Linked DNA regions of Homo sapiens: region 1 is linked to region 2. Evidence: fine-mapped expression QTL. Tissue or cell type: naive CD8 T cells. Region 2 holds a variant in brackets; the other region holds the start of a gene. All regions are shown on one strand. Distances are between the middles of the regions.

Region 1 (6,180 bases), 830 kb after region 2:
GTATTTTTAGTAGAGATGGGGTTTCACCGTGTTAGCCAGGATAGTCTATCTCCTGATCTCGTGATCCGCCCACCTCGGCCTCCCAAAGTGCTGTGAAACAGGCGTGAGACATCACGCTCAGCTAATTTATTTATTTTTAGAGGGAGTCTCTCTCTGTTTCCAGGCTAGAGTGCAGTGGCCTGATCTCACTCACTGCAACCTCTGCCTCCTGGGTTCAAGCTATTCTCCTGCCTCAGCCTCCTAAGTAGCTGGGACTATAGGCACACATCAACATGCCCAGCTAATTTTTGTGTTTTTAGTAGAGACAGGGTTTCGTCATGTTGGCCAGGATGGTCTTGATCTCTTGACCTCATGATCCACCCGCCTTGGCCTCCCAAAGTGCTAGGATTACAGGAGTGAGCCACCGTGCCCGGCCTACCCCATGTTTTATTAAAGTTTATTTTCTTTTTCAAAAATTTTAATGATTTATCCACACTACACAGATGTAATGTCTGCTTAATATAAACCATTTCAAATGACTTAGGTAAATCATTTAACTCTTCCCTCCCTGAAAGATTTTTTTTGAGAAAAGTGATTACACAAGAAGGTGCACCTTCCATATTTATCCCATAGCTTTGTTTAGTTCCTAGTGCGTGGTTTCAAAAACCTGGATCCCAGTTTGAAAGCATGACTACAGAGCAAATTGCATTAAAGACATCTTAAGAATGATGATGAAAATAATTATTATAGGCAAGGGCCAGAAGATTTTTTTTTTTTTTTTTTCTGAGATGGAGTCTCGCTCTGTCGCCCAGGCTGGAATGTGGTGGCGTGATCTAGGCTCACTGCAAGCTCCGCCTCCTGGGTTCATGCAATTCTCCTGCCTCAGCCTCCCGAGTAGCTGGGACTACAGGCGCCCACCACCGCACCCAGCTAATTTTTTGTATTTTTAGTAGAGACGGGGTTTCATCATGTTAGCCAGGATGGTCTCGATCTCCTGACCTTGTGATCTGCAGAAGATATTAATAGCACTTAAATTATACAGCTATAGATAGAGTTGAGTGGGGGTTTTTTTGTTTTTTTTATTTTGCTTTGTTTTGTTTTTGAGATGGAGTCTCGCTCTGTCGCCCAGATTGGAGTGGAGTTACGCAATCTCAGCTCACTGCAACCTCAACCTCCCGGGCTCAATTGGTTCTCCCACCTCAGCCTCCCAAGTAGCTGGGACTAGAGGCATGTACCACCATGCTGGCTAATTTTTGTATTTTTTGTAGAGATGGGGTTTTGCCCTGTTGCCCAGGCTGGTCTCAAACTCCTGAGATCAAGCGATGTGCCCTCTTTGGCCTCCCAAAGTGCTTGGATTCCAGGCTTAAGCCACTGTGCCAGGCCAAAGTAGTTTTGAACTTTCCACTGTCAACGAAAGAAATTCTAAACACGACTGATTCCACTGAGTTTGACCAAACTAACTGAAGACTTATTGTTGAATGTGGTAATACCATGTTTTTTCTTCACCCAAGAATCTGGGTGCTTTATAAGCATAAGCATGAAATCTCCCTGAAGATAGTATTTATGCATCCACTGAGCGCTCAAATATAGACCATATTAGAAGTTAAGCAATGGGTTGAGTGGCCAACCACATTTTGGCCAGTCCTACAAGACTTTCTTTGACCTACCAAATGGGGTATAAATGCTTCTCGTATTCTCCCCGCCAGTAGGGACTCAAAATCTTAATAGCTCGGGGTAGTAAAAAGGATGCTAGGTTTGAATCTTGGCTTTAAGAAAACTGTGCTGAGGTGTTTTGTTTGTTTGAGACAGGGTTTCACTCTATCACCCAAGCTGGAGTGCAGTGGCGTGATCATAGCTCACTCCCAGGCTGAAGGGATCCTCCCACCACAGACTTCTGAGTAGCTGGGACGACCGGTGCATGCCACCATGCCCGGCTAATTTTTTGTACTTTTGGTACAGACAGTGTTTCGCCATGTTGTCGAGGCTGGTCTCAAACTCATGAGCTCAAAGAGATCCACCTGCCTCGACCTCCCAAAGTGCTGGGATTACAGGCACGAGCCACTGCGCCCGGCCAGCTTTTTTTCTTTTATCAGAATTGATATTAAACTATATGCTGAGCTTCCATGTCCTTATCTTCCTTTTGGCATGGCTATGGCCATTTGAAATGTGTGGGATTTGCTAAAGTGCTCAACATACGTTGTTTCCTTTTTTAGATCTAAGTATGTAGAGGGCTCTGATTTGCAATATTTAGAAAGTTCTTCTAAGCTGGGAAGAAAAGTCAAGACTAAGAATCATTGCCAACAGGGCCGGGCGCGGTGGCTCACGCCTGTACTCCCAGCATTTTGGGAGGCCGAGGCAGGCGGATCACGAGGTCAGGAGTTCGAGACCAGCCTGGCCAATATGGTGAAACCCCTTCTCTAATAATAATACAAAAATTAGCCGGGCATGGTGGCGTGCGCCTGTAATCCCAGGTACTCAAGAGGCTGAGGCAGGAGACTCACTTGAACCCGGGAGGCGAAGGTTGCAGTGAGCCGACATCGTGCCACTGCACTCCATCATGGGCAACACAGTGAGACTCTGTCTCAAAAAAAAAAAAAAAAAAATCGCCAATAGGTAGGGAATAAGTTACCCCCTGCTAAATAAGTTACACTCACCTAGGCAAGGAAGGAACTCATAAACCACCTTCTAAACTGCTTGCCTTCCTCCCCGAAGTTCTGTAATTTAGAGGCGGTCACTACCACTGCTTGAACACCCCTTCCCAAGTCTGTACCACAAAAGGAGCTCTTGTGTAGCCCAGCCCCTCCTTCTCAGGACCCCAGGAGCCCAGACACACTAATGGGGACATTAGTTGCTTACTTTTCCAGCTACTGCTTAAGCTAGGCAGGCCATGAAGAAATAACGGTCTCAGTAACCTCCATGCTCGGGATACGACTCCCGGGAAGACGTGGGTGGGTGCGGGGAATGCGGACTGATCCCTCCCAGCGGCCGTTGGGGGCTGGCCCACAATCCCTCGCGAGGGCGGGAAAAGCAATGTGGTCGTTGCGGGGGGGGGGGGTCAGAAAAGGGGGACGGTCAGCGGGAAGAGCCAAGAGACTGCAACTCTACAAAGAGCACGCAGATTAATTCTAATGATTGTTCCCTGAGCTTTTCACACCAAAATAATGGTAACTGGCTAGTGTGTGCCCGTTACGCTCACTACTCCCACTCGAGATCATTCCTATTAATGACTCTGAGGCTTCACCTAACAGGCCACGGTGGAGGCAAGGAAATGTGGCGTGGAGAACCCACTGGGCCTGGCTCTCCGTCCTATGGTCTCCGTCCATCGTTTTACAGTCAGGGTGTACATTTGATGAGGAATCTCTAAATGGGATTTTGGGGAATCAAAACGGAATGGTGCATAAGTGTGAAAATTTACAAGACTGCGCAAAGCTGCAAGGCCCGGAGCCCCGTGCGGCCAGGCCGCAGAGCCGGCCCCTTCCGCTTTACGTCTGACGTCACGCCGCACGCCCCAGCGAGGGCGTGCGGAGTTTGGCTGCTCCGGGGTTAGCAGGTGAGCCTGCGATGCGCGGGAAGACGTTCCGCTTTGAAATGCAGCGGGATTTGGTGAGTTTCCCGCTGTCTCCAGCGGTGCGGGTGAAGCTGGTGTCTGCGGGGTTCCAGACTGCTGAGGAACTCCTAGAGGTGAAACCCTCCGAGCTTAGCAAAGGTAACGACTCCTGATGGCAAGCTGAGGCACACCGGCCGCCGTCAGCGCCGCCTCAGTCTTCGTTCTCTCGCCTCGGCCTTCAGCCCAGTCTCCGTTAGATTCTGCTTCCTCCCACGTCCATGTTTACAGCGTGAAAGAGCTCCTCGACTCCACTTACAAGTTGTCTGAATGGTTAGGAGAACTGTGGTCGTGAAAACATTTACTAATTGCTTTTCCTCTGGCAATGCCTGCTGAATGCTTTGAGGATTGTCTCATTTAACCCTCAACCCGCTTACGTAGATTATTATATTCAGTATATGGATGAGAGAACTGATATCTTGGGGAGCTTAGGTAACTTTTCATGCTAACTGGGTTAGGAAATACTGGAGTCAGAATTGGTTGTCTAATTTTTGCTGTTCCAAGATCCAAGGGGTAAGGGTTAAATTTCAGAAATGCAGGATTTTGTGTAGGACTAGAGACACTAAGAATGAGAAAGAGAGTAGAATCCCCGGAATCTTGAGGAAGCATAGAAAGAATATTCTCTTACGTAATTAACTGAAACACCCAAAACCTCATATTCCAGAGCATTGCAGATGGGAACCACTGCATCCTGAGACATACAAATATGAGGCTGGCGGTGGTCACTTGTTGTGCACATCTCTCTATGACATGTCTGGACCTGTGCTATTCACTGAAGAAGATGGAACAGAATTTTAAGTTACTGCCCTTACTGATGGAAAATACAGAGGTTTCAATTCGCCTCTAAAGAATAAGTCTCGTGGACCCAGCCTTAACTGTTTAAGTCATACCGCGCGCAGACTGTGTCCCCCAAGATTTGATGGGCTCTTTTTTCTTCAACAAGTTGGCTTTTCAAAGAAGAAATGTGAGACCCTGAATAATAATGATCACTAACAACTATTGACTACTTTAGATGGTCTTGATATTCTACCAAGCTTTTTACATGTATCGTCTCATTCCCATTTTATAGACGAAAAAAATCTGAGCAAAAAAGAAAAAGTGAAGTAACTTGCCCAAAGTCATGCAGTAAGTGGTGCCAGGATTTACAAACCCAGGCAATCTAATTCCAGCATTCAGGCTCTTGATAGGATTTTCATTTCCTAAATGCTGTCATCACCATTGTCTTTTATTAGCCCCATATTTATGGCTCATATTCTTATCAGATCAAGCACTGATATATCAAACTGATAAGTGATGTCATCCTCACCATTATTTCTTCACCAGCTTGTTTTGTAATTGCCATTTTCTTTTCTCAGGCCACACTGTCAGATGGGTGAAATTGTGTAGTCGAGGAAGCATAAATGTATTCTTTAAAATGCTTGTGCCTTGAATAATTGTTCTCATTAGTTTGGAGTGATACATGAATTTTTTACATCAGTTATTTCCATGAAAAGTTTTTATTATAAATAATACATGCATATGTGCTTCTTAAAGTTGTACCTTGTTTTAGGCAGTTAAAACATCTATTTTCATTCTCATCTGAAAAATAATTTGTATACCTTATGAGAGCGAGATAATTATGGCTTCATAAGACCAAAAGGGATAGTAAAAATATGGTAATAGTGAGTACATTTTTATTTCTGCTTCCTGAGACACTTGTAGGTACTCAGAAATGCTTTAGTTGAATTGTTTCTGAGGTAATAGGTAATTCTTTATGTGATGACTAAGAAAACGAATACCTTTATTAAGCTGAATTTTTTTTTTTTTTTTTTTGAGACGGAGTCTCGCACTGTCATCCAGGCTGGAATGCAGTGGTGCGATCCAGGCTGGAGTGCAGTGGTGCAGGTTCAAGTGATTGTCCTGCCTCAGCCTCCCAAGTAGCTGGAATTATAACGCGTGCCACCATGCCCGGCTAATTTTTGTATTTTTAGTAGAGACGGAGTTTCACCATGTTGGCCAGGCTGGTCTTCAACTCCTGACCTCAGGTGATCTGGCTGCCTCAGCCTCCCAAAGTACTGGGATTTTAGGCATGAGCCACTGTGTCCGGCCAAACTGAAAAATTAAATGGTTGATAGAATGTTGCATTTTTATGTTTCTCCACTCCTAGCATCACTGTTGTCTACAAATTAATAAAGACAATCGATTATCATGTTACACTTTTAAATCTCTAAAATTAGGGTTCTTTTTTTCTTATTTTACTTTCAGAAGTTGGGATATCTAAAGCAGAAGCCTTAGAAACTCTGCAAATTATCAGAAGAGAATGTCTCACAAATAAACCAAGATATGCTGGTACATCTGAGTCACACAAGAAGTGTACAGCACTGGAACTTCTTGAGCAGGAGCATACCCAGGGCTTCATAATCACCTTCTGTTCAGCACTAGATGATATTCTTGGGGGTGGAGTGCCCTTAATGAAAACAACAGAAATTTGTGGTGCACCAGGTGTTGGAAAAACACAATTATGGTAAAATAAAGTGTTCTCCTTTTAAGGGTGGGTTTAATAACATATTATGAAAGTAGTATTTTGTACTATCGTCAGGAAACCAAATAAGATATAT
Region 2 (7,680 bases):
ACCGGGTTTCACCATGTTGGTCAGGCTGGTCTCGAATTCCTGACCTCAAGTGATCCACCCACCTCAGCCTCCCAAAGTGCTAGGATTTACAGGCGTAAGCCACCGTGCCCAGCCTACAAACTATTTTCATTTAGCTACCCACTCTTTTCTTCACCAAACCTGGGCTTGCCCCCAGGAAGAATCCAGTTCAGGAAGAGAACTAAGTACTTTATGCCCTGGGAGGCCTATGTCACTGTGACCAGGGAAAAAAGGGCCAGCTAGGCCTGGAGCAAGAAGCTGGCCTTTTATTGTTGGAATTCAAGACCAGTTGCAATCACTCTGTGGGGTTTTGCAGCCCACCAAACCCCTTGAAGGCATACATTTCAGGGCCAGTGTGGGCCCCTCTCTTCCTGGGGAAGCCACAGCAACTCGATCTTTAATATGCACATGAATTTGCTGCAGATCTTGGAAAATGCAGTGTGACTCAGTAGGTCTGGGTCTGCATTTCTAGCAACCTTCCAGGTTGATGCCAGTGCTGCGAATCTGCAGTTGGGATAACGAACCCACCCGAGTATGCCCACGACTTTCCTAGTTTTGGCACTGAAAGTTCTGCATCCAGGGAAACCAGGACAGTTGGTCGATGTATCCAAAGACCACACTTTGAATGGCAAGGTCAAAGCAAGGAAGCATGTGCTGTTTGTACTGAGTTTCATAGTTCCTCCCACTGGAGTCCCTGGAATAATCCTCTTGTCCTGATAAAGAACTGTGACTCTTTACGCTCTAGAAAGGCCACCTGACTCCAAGCCTCAGCTCTTCAGGGTAGATGCTGGTTTTGGGGGGCCTGAAGCTTATCTAATCTTAGTGGCTCTCTTAAGAAAAAATTTGACCAGGCGCAGTGGCTCACGGCCTGTAATCCCAGCAATTTGGGAGGCTGAGGTGGGTGGATCACCTGAGGTCAGGAGTTCGAGACCAGCCTGGCCAACATGGCGAAACCCCGTCTCTACTAAAAATACAAAAATTTAGCTGGGCGTGGTGGCGGGTGCCTGTAATCCCAGCTACTCAGGACGCTGAGGCAGGAGAATCACTTGAACCCAGAAGGCGGGGGTTGCAGTGAGCTGAGATCACACTGTTGCACTCCAGCCTGGGCAACAAGAGTGAAACTCCATCTCAAAAAAACAAAAAGAAAAGAAAAAATTTAAAATATCTTTGTTTTGCAAATTTTAGAAAACATATAACCATGTGAACAGAGTAAATTTCCCTCTGTCTCTTTGGCCTAAGGCCAAACAGGTGCTCGCATCTTCCTTCTGGGAAAATGGTGCTGGGTGTCTCAGTGGCCAGTGACTGCCACTTCTGCAAGATGACCACCAGGTGGCAGTCGATTTACACAGCCCCCTTCACATGCCCACCCTCTCCCGCCTGGCCACCTCCAGAAATTTCCAACTCTTCCTCCAGCTGGTGCAGCCCATTAATCCAACAAATTAATCTATGCTGTGATAATGGGCATAAGGAGTTCATGTGCTTCTCTCTCAATAGCATATTTGCCATTTAATGGAAATGCTGAGAGATTGTTTTTAAAACCAGATAAAGAATGCTAATGGAGGCGTTCCAGGCACTCTGTTGGATCACGGATCACTTTGGTGATGTTTTTGAGCAAGTGGGCCCTTCTGTGCTCCACAGATTGCATCTGTGCAAAGGTGCTGCATCTTAACCCCATCCCCCTGCATCCCAACCCGACCCCACCATGCTTAGTGTTTAGGTATCATCTCGGGAGCTCAGCTGCCTGGATTCATATGCAGGTACTACCACCTCTTACTGAGGGTAGATGTTGAGTAAGGACTTTAACATCTCTGTGTGAAACGCACGTAGTAATACTGATTTCATATAATTGTTGTGAAGGATTCGGTAAAGTACCCTAGGAGTGTGTGGCACACAATAAACACTCGATAAAGAGCTACCATCTTCATACCACACCTTGCCTGCCTCCTTCATTCTTCAGAGCAAATTCTCCTGTTTCCCCCCCAGACCCTATCTCCAACCAGTTGCTTCAAGAAAACAAAGGGAGAATTGAGACCCCAGCATGGTAATAACCAGGCAATTCTTGTGGGCACAGCGTTTTCCAGACCCATGATCGCCTTTTAAGTTGGGGCTGATCCCTGAGGACATCAAAGCATCATCAAGATAGGGAAGGGGCCCTGGCTGGACCAGACTTCAGATAGCCCAGCTCTGCATTTTTGCAGAGGATAAATCTGCAAGTATCGCCTTGTGGATACCAGGAGTTCAGCACTTGCAGATGAGCAAGCAATGTGAGGGTAGGTGGCTAAGGCAGTCATCTGGTCCAGCCTGTCCCTGCCCCTGGACCCATAGCCATCTTTAACCAGGCGTCAGCGGCTCCAGCAGAGGCTTCATCTCCTGCACTCCTTGTTAGACCTGGTAAGCATTCTCCCTCTCTTTCTCTCTCTGATTACAATCATCTCCAGTGTCATCTACACTAACAGGTAAAATGGTGTAAGGGTCTCAAACTTGCTGCATATTAGAAGCACCTGGGATTTTACAATCTGATTCTCAGGCTAAATCCCAAACCAATTAAATCAGAATCTCTGGGAATGAGACCCACACATCAGAAATGATTCTAACGTACAGCAAGTTTGAGAACCAGTGTTCTAGAGCAGTGTTTCTCTAGCTTTAATGTGCATAGAAGTCACCTGAAGAGCTTGTTAAAATGCGAATTCTGATCCAGTGAGGCTGGGGCAGAGCCTGAGATTCTTTTTCTAACAAGCTCCTAGGTAATAATGAATGTTGCTGGTCCATAGACCAAGCTGTGAGTGGTCAGATTGTGGAACTGTGGTTCTCAAATTTGAGCATGTATCAGAATGATCTGAAGGTCTTGTTAAAATGCACGCCAGTTTCCGATTCAGATCTGGAATGGGGCCTGATAATACGCATTCCTAACAAGTTCCCAGGGAATGGCGATGCTGCTGGTCCACAGGGCACACTTTGGGCAGCAGGGGTGTAGAGGAGGCAACACAAGTTTTGGAGTCAGGCAGCCCTCAGCCTCCTTTTCTGGCCTCATGACACTCTAGCTCTGTGATCTTGGATAAGTTACTTAACCTCTCTGAACTGTAATTATACTATCTGTAAAGTGATCGTTATTGGGCAAGATCAAATGAGCTAAAACACCTAACACATTGCCAAGTGGGCTGGTCCTCAAGCTTGACGGCAGATTTAATTACCTTGGGAGCTTTTTTTAAAAAACAAACAAAAAACCCATAGTTGATTTAATTGGTCTACGGTACTGAACATCAGGACGTTTTTTCTTTAATAGAGATGAGGTCTTGCTCTGTCACCCAGGCTGGAGTGCGGTGGCTCAATTATAGCTCACTGTAATGTCAAATTCCTGACCTCAAACAATCCTCCCACTTTGGCCTCCCAAAGTGCTGGGATTACAGGCATGAACCACAAGGGCGGGCCAGGATCT[A/AT]TTTTTTTAATTGAGACAGGGTCTTGCTCTGTCACCCAGGCTGGAGTGCAGTGGCATGATCACAGCTCACTGCAGCCTCGACCTCCTGGGCTCAAGCGATCCTCCCCCCTCACCCTCCCGTGTAGCTGGGATTACACATGTGTGCCACCAACCCAGCTATTTTTTTTTTTTTTTTTTTTTTGTAGAGATGTGGGGGGTTGGGGGATGGGTCTCACTTCGTTGCCCAGGCTGGTCTTGAACTCCTGGCCTCAAGCGATCCTGCTGCCTCGACCTGTCAAAGTGCTGGGATTCTAAGTGTAAGCCACTGAGCCTGGTCTTGGCCAGGATTTTTTTTAAAGCTACTCAAGTAATTCTGTGCAGCCAGTGCTAGGTACTGGCCTGGTACCATGGTTCCCAAACTGTGGTGTGCATCAGAATCACAGGTTGCTGGGCTGCACCCCCAGAGTTTCTGACTCAGTAGGTCTCGGATGGGACTGAGAATTGGCATTTGGAACAGCTTCCCAGGCAATGAATACCACGCAGAGAACCAGGGCTGGAGGATAATCCTGGTTTGCTCAGGACAGCTCATGTGGAGCGTCACCCTGTCCCAGGTGTGCCACTTTACAAGCCCCCCTGGGTCTGACTGGGAGTGGGGCCAGACCCTGATGGGTGGGGAGGCCCCTGCAGGAGTGCAGGAGGCACAGTTGTTGTCAGGGAAGAGAGAGGGTGAGGTCACTGAGCTGAAACATGGCATCAGGGGCAAGAGAGGCAGCCTTGGCAACAGTGACCCAGAGCCCAGGAGTAAGATGTGTGGTTGGAACCCCTAGGAGGCCGTTAGCTCAACACAAGGAAAAACTTCGACCTTGAGAACTGCCCTGTCTGGAAACGGCACCAGCTTCCTCTTCTGGCAGCGAGGGCCCTGTCCCTGTGGTGGAGGGCGGGGTAGTCCTGCTGAGCTGGAGGAGGAGGAGGAAGGAGAGATGTATCAACTGGGGCGATCTCTGAGTTCCCTTTGAAGTCTGAAATTGCACTTCCCTGCAACCTCCAGTCTGCCTTTAATCCAGAAGCTGTTTATTTAGGGAGGTGGCCGTCTGGAGCTTTCTCAACAGACTGGCTTTCCCCATGGTGTTTCCCTTGCCTGATACAGCAAGCGGTTTACAGTCCTGGGCCAAACAGGAAGGCGACAGCGCTAGACGCAGCCGGCAGGTCCGCAAGGTTGAGGTGCAGCGGTGCCGCAGGTGTCACCTCGAGAGTGCAGTCGGAGAGCGCCGCGGGTGAATGGGCCAGGCAAGGCAGGGGTACCCTAGGGATGCGACGCGGGGCTCCTGGGGACAAACCCTGCCCCAGGCCGGGAGGGAGGAGGGAGCAGGAGGGTCCAGCCCACGCCGCTGGCCACATCAGAGCACCAAGAGAACACCAACTGTTTATTACAGGAATTCCTATGAAACAGCTCCAAGAAAAAACCCACACATAGGAGGAAAAAAAATAACAAAGCAACACTCAACAGACATGGGGCTGGGGCTTCCCCCACAGTGCGCCGGGTCCTGGCGCGGGGAAGGCTCAGAGACCCGTCGAGAACTCGAGCTGGGGTACCGAGGCACTCCTCGGAGACCCCCCCCCCTCCCTCCAGGGCCCCAGGCCTGGCGCGGGGAGCAGCGGAGGGGGCGACCGCTCCTCGGCAGGGCCCCCCGAGCCAGCGTCCCGGCCCCGCGCGCGTTTCCAAACTTGGTCACGCTCGGCGGCGGCTGCGCGTCCCGGCCCTCCCCAAGCTCGGCGTTGCGAGTCCGGGCAGGGTGGGCGGGACGAGGTGCGATCGCCGGCTCGCCTTCGCTACGCCCTTGTGATCTTGGGGCCACGGAGGCCACCAGGGCCCGGCCAAGGATCGGATGCCACTCCCAACCTCCCAGAGCCGCGCCGAAGCCTCGTGCCTGCCCAGGCTTCCCGGCTCTCCGGAAGGTCTGCGCGCTCCCATGTCCAGGGCGGGGCCACGGGCTGGGCAGCCTCCCTCCCCGTGGCAGTGGTCAGTGCCGTGTAAGCGTTCCTAGAATCAGAGTTCTCCTCCTCAGATCACCCGCCCTTCTCAGGGGCACCCAGCAAGCCCTTATGCCCTAGGCGCTCACCCAGGCTGGCGGCCTTTCCGCCTTGCTCTTTAGCCCTGCACCTGCTCAAAGGGGTCACTCCAGGACCCACCGCTGCCCACCCTCGGACAGCAGGGCTTCCAGTCCAGCTGGGGAGTCAGAGCCCCTGTGAGCCCCTACTGTGGTGTGACTCCAGAACTGGCTTTTGTCTGCTGCCAAATTAAAGACCCTGCCTCCCCAGAGTCCTCCAGCTCCAGGGTGGCCACCCTCCCCATCCCTGCTGGGTGACCGGGAGCTGCTGGGAGTGAGCCCATCCCTAACAGCAGCAGCCTGATGAGGCCAGACGGGGCAGGGCAGTCGGCAGATGCTTTGCAGTAGCCCATAGCTCCTCAGAGTTCCTGGGGGACTGGCCAGGGACCTCCCACCCAGGCTGGGTGCAGGGCTCGTGTGCTGGGCCAGCAGCCCCGGGGGAAGGCTGAGATACAGGAGGACATGGAAGGGAAGGGCACAAGTGCCCGGAGGGAGCTGAGGAAGGGGGACCAGAAGGGAGCTGAGGAAAGGGGGTCAGGCAGAGTCTGTGACAGGAGAGATAGAGAACGGACGGAGGCAGAGACTCCACCTTCAGGCCAAAGAGCCTCTGGTGGGGGTCATCTTGCCCTTTTCCATATTCCAACTTTTATCTGCTTTCTGGATTTTTTTTTTTTTAAAGGGAGGTTGGTTCCTGCATTTCCACTCTTTGACCATAGGAACGCCTGGCTACAAAAGGGGCTGTAATTGGCTGCTGCCTATAGGGGCCCCAGGTCCTTCCTCCAATTGCAAGGCAGCAACTCCGAAGTTCTAAGTCCCATGGAAAGTGGCAGTGGTTGGGCTGGACTGTGGCTGGAGGATCACCGGGCCTCGGTTCTCAAGCACCATCTGTCTGGCTGCAGCTGGGCCCTTCAGCTGGGGGCCAGTGTTGCTTTCCAGCTGCCCCCACCGGGTCAGATCATCTCTGGCAAGGAAGAGCTGCTGGCATCTGGTAGGGGAAAAAAGGGATGGGAGGAATCTTTTTCAAAGGAGCCCAATGGTCTTTCCTGGTCACTGGTTCCTGGAGAGACAGTTTTGGGAGAAGTTACTAAAGACGTAAGCCCTCTCCTTTTTCCAGGGACTCGAGGTCAACCGTAGAACTCTGCCTGGGTCATCCCCCCATTCAAATTCCTAGAACCATTCCAGCTTGCCCAGCTGCAGGGACTCTGGCAGCAGGAGATGGAGTGAAGGAATGGAATCCCGGGGTGAAGCAGCTGTAGGGGAGGGCTTCAACGTGGGAGGGTACCTGGCCCATTCTAATACGTCATAGCTCAGGGGAGCTAGGCCACAAAGACCTGTAGGTGGAGAAAAGTAAACTGGGGGCAGAACTTGGTAGGACTCAGACACCAGGCTGAAGAGTTCCTAAGACTTTACTCAGAAGACTCATTCAGGCCAGGCGCAGTGGCTCACGCCTGTAATCTCAGCACTTTGGGAGGCTGAGGCGGGCCGAGGTCAGGGGTTTAAGACCAGCCTAACCAGCATGGTGAAACCCCGTCTCTACTAAAAATACAAAAATTAGCCGGGCGGGGTGGCACGTGCCTGTAATCCCAGCTACTCGGGAGGCTGAGGCAGGAGAATGGCTTGAACTTGAGAAGGGGAGGTTGCAGTGAGTGGAGATTGCACCACTGCACTCTAGCCTGGGCAACAGAGCGAGACTCCATCTCAAAAAAAAAAAAAAAAAGAAAGAAAAGAAAAAGAAAAAAAAAGATTCATTCAAAGAGCACAGGAAAAATGGAACTAAAGTGGTGTTTTGGTGGTGGGATAATCAGAGTAGGTAGGGGCAGTGAAGAGAACAGGGCTGTGACCTAGGTGATGAGCATCTATCAGGGTGGTAATGGAAGGAATAGAAAAGAGAATGAAAGGGGGCAGTCAGGAGGAGAGACTGAGTTGCTATCCAAGGCTGAAAAGAAAATCTTGGGTGCAGCTGGGGACACGAAGCAGCTCTGGAAGCCTAACTGCGATGGAGATTCAGATGTAGGAGCCAGATGCGCAGAAGTGTTGCTGGTGCTATAAAAGAGGGCGGAGGCACTGCCAGAGTGGGCAGTGAGAAGACTTCGAAGAGGGTCAAGGGCAGAGCAACAAGGAGAGCCAGTATTTAGGGAG

The links. PIP is the estimated chance that this variant, and not a neighbour inherited with it, causes the effect.
Region 1: RAD51C starts here. The variant in region 2 is fine-mapped to the expression of RAD51C in naive CD8 T cells (Schmiedel 2018, PIP 0.95).

What each region holds. Positions count from the first base shown.
Region 1 is chr17:58,689,104-58,695,283 of GRCh38, forward strand. RAD51C (RAD51 paralog C) reads left to right here and starts at 3,499. Exons shown (of 9, transcript NM_058216.3): 1 at 3,499-3,685; 2 at 5,828-6,086. The coding sequence starts at 3,541. It overlaps TEX14 (testis expressed 14, intercellular bridge forming factor), which reads right to left and starts at 2,942. Exons shown (of 32, transcript NM_031272.5): 1 at 2,836-2,942. It overlaps IGBP1C (IGBP1 family member C), which reads right to left and starts at 2,942. Exons shown (of 2, transcript NM_001395966.1): 1 at 2,836-2,942. RefSeq lists enhancers at 3,257-3,356, 3,687-3,856.
Region 2 is chr17:57,856,760-57,864,439 of GRCh38, forward strand. CUEDC1 (CUE domain containing 1) reads right to left here. Exons shown (of 11, transcript NM_001271875.2): 11 at 4,484-6,526. Among named protein-coding and RNA genes, the nearest start is that of MRPS23, 11 kb to the left of the region's middle. RefSeq lists enhancers at 3,602-4,452, 4,453-5,302, 5,303-6,152. The variant A/AT (reference allele first, on the strand shown) is at 3,455.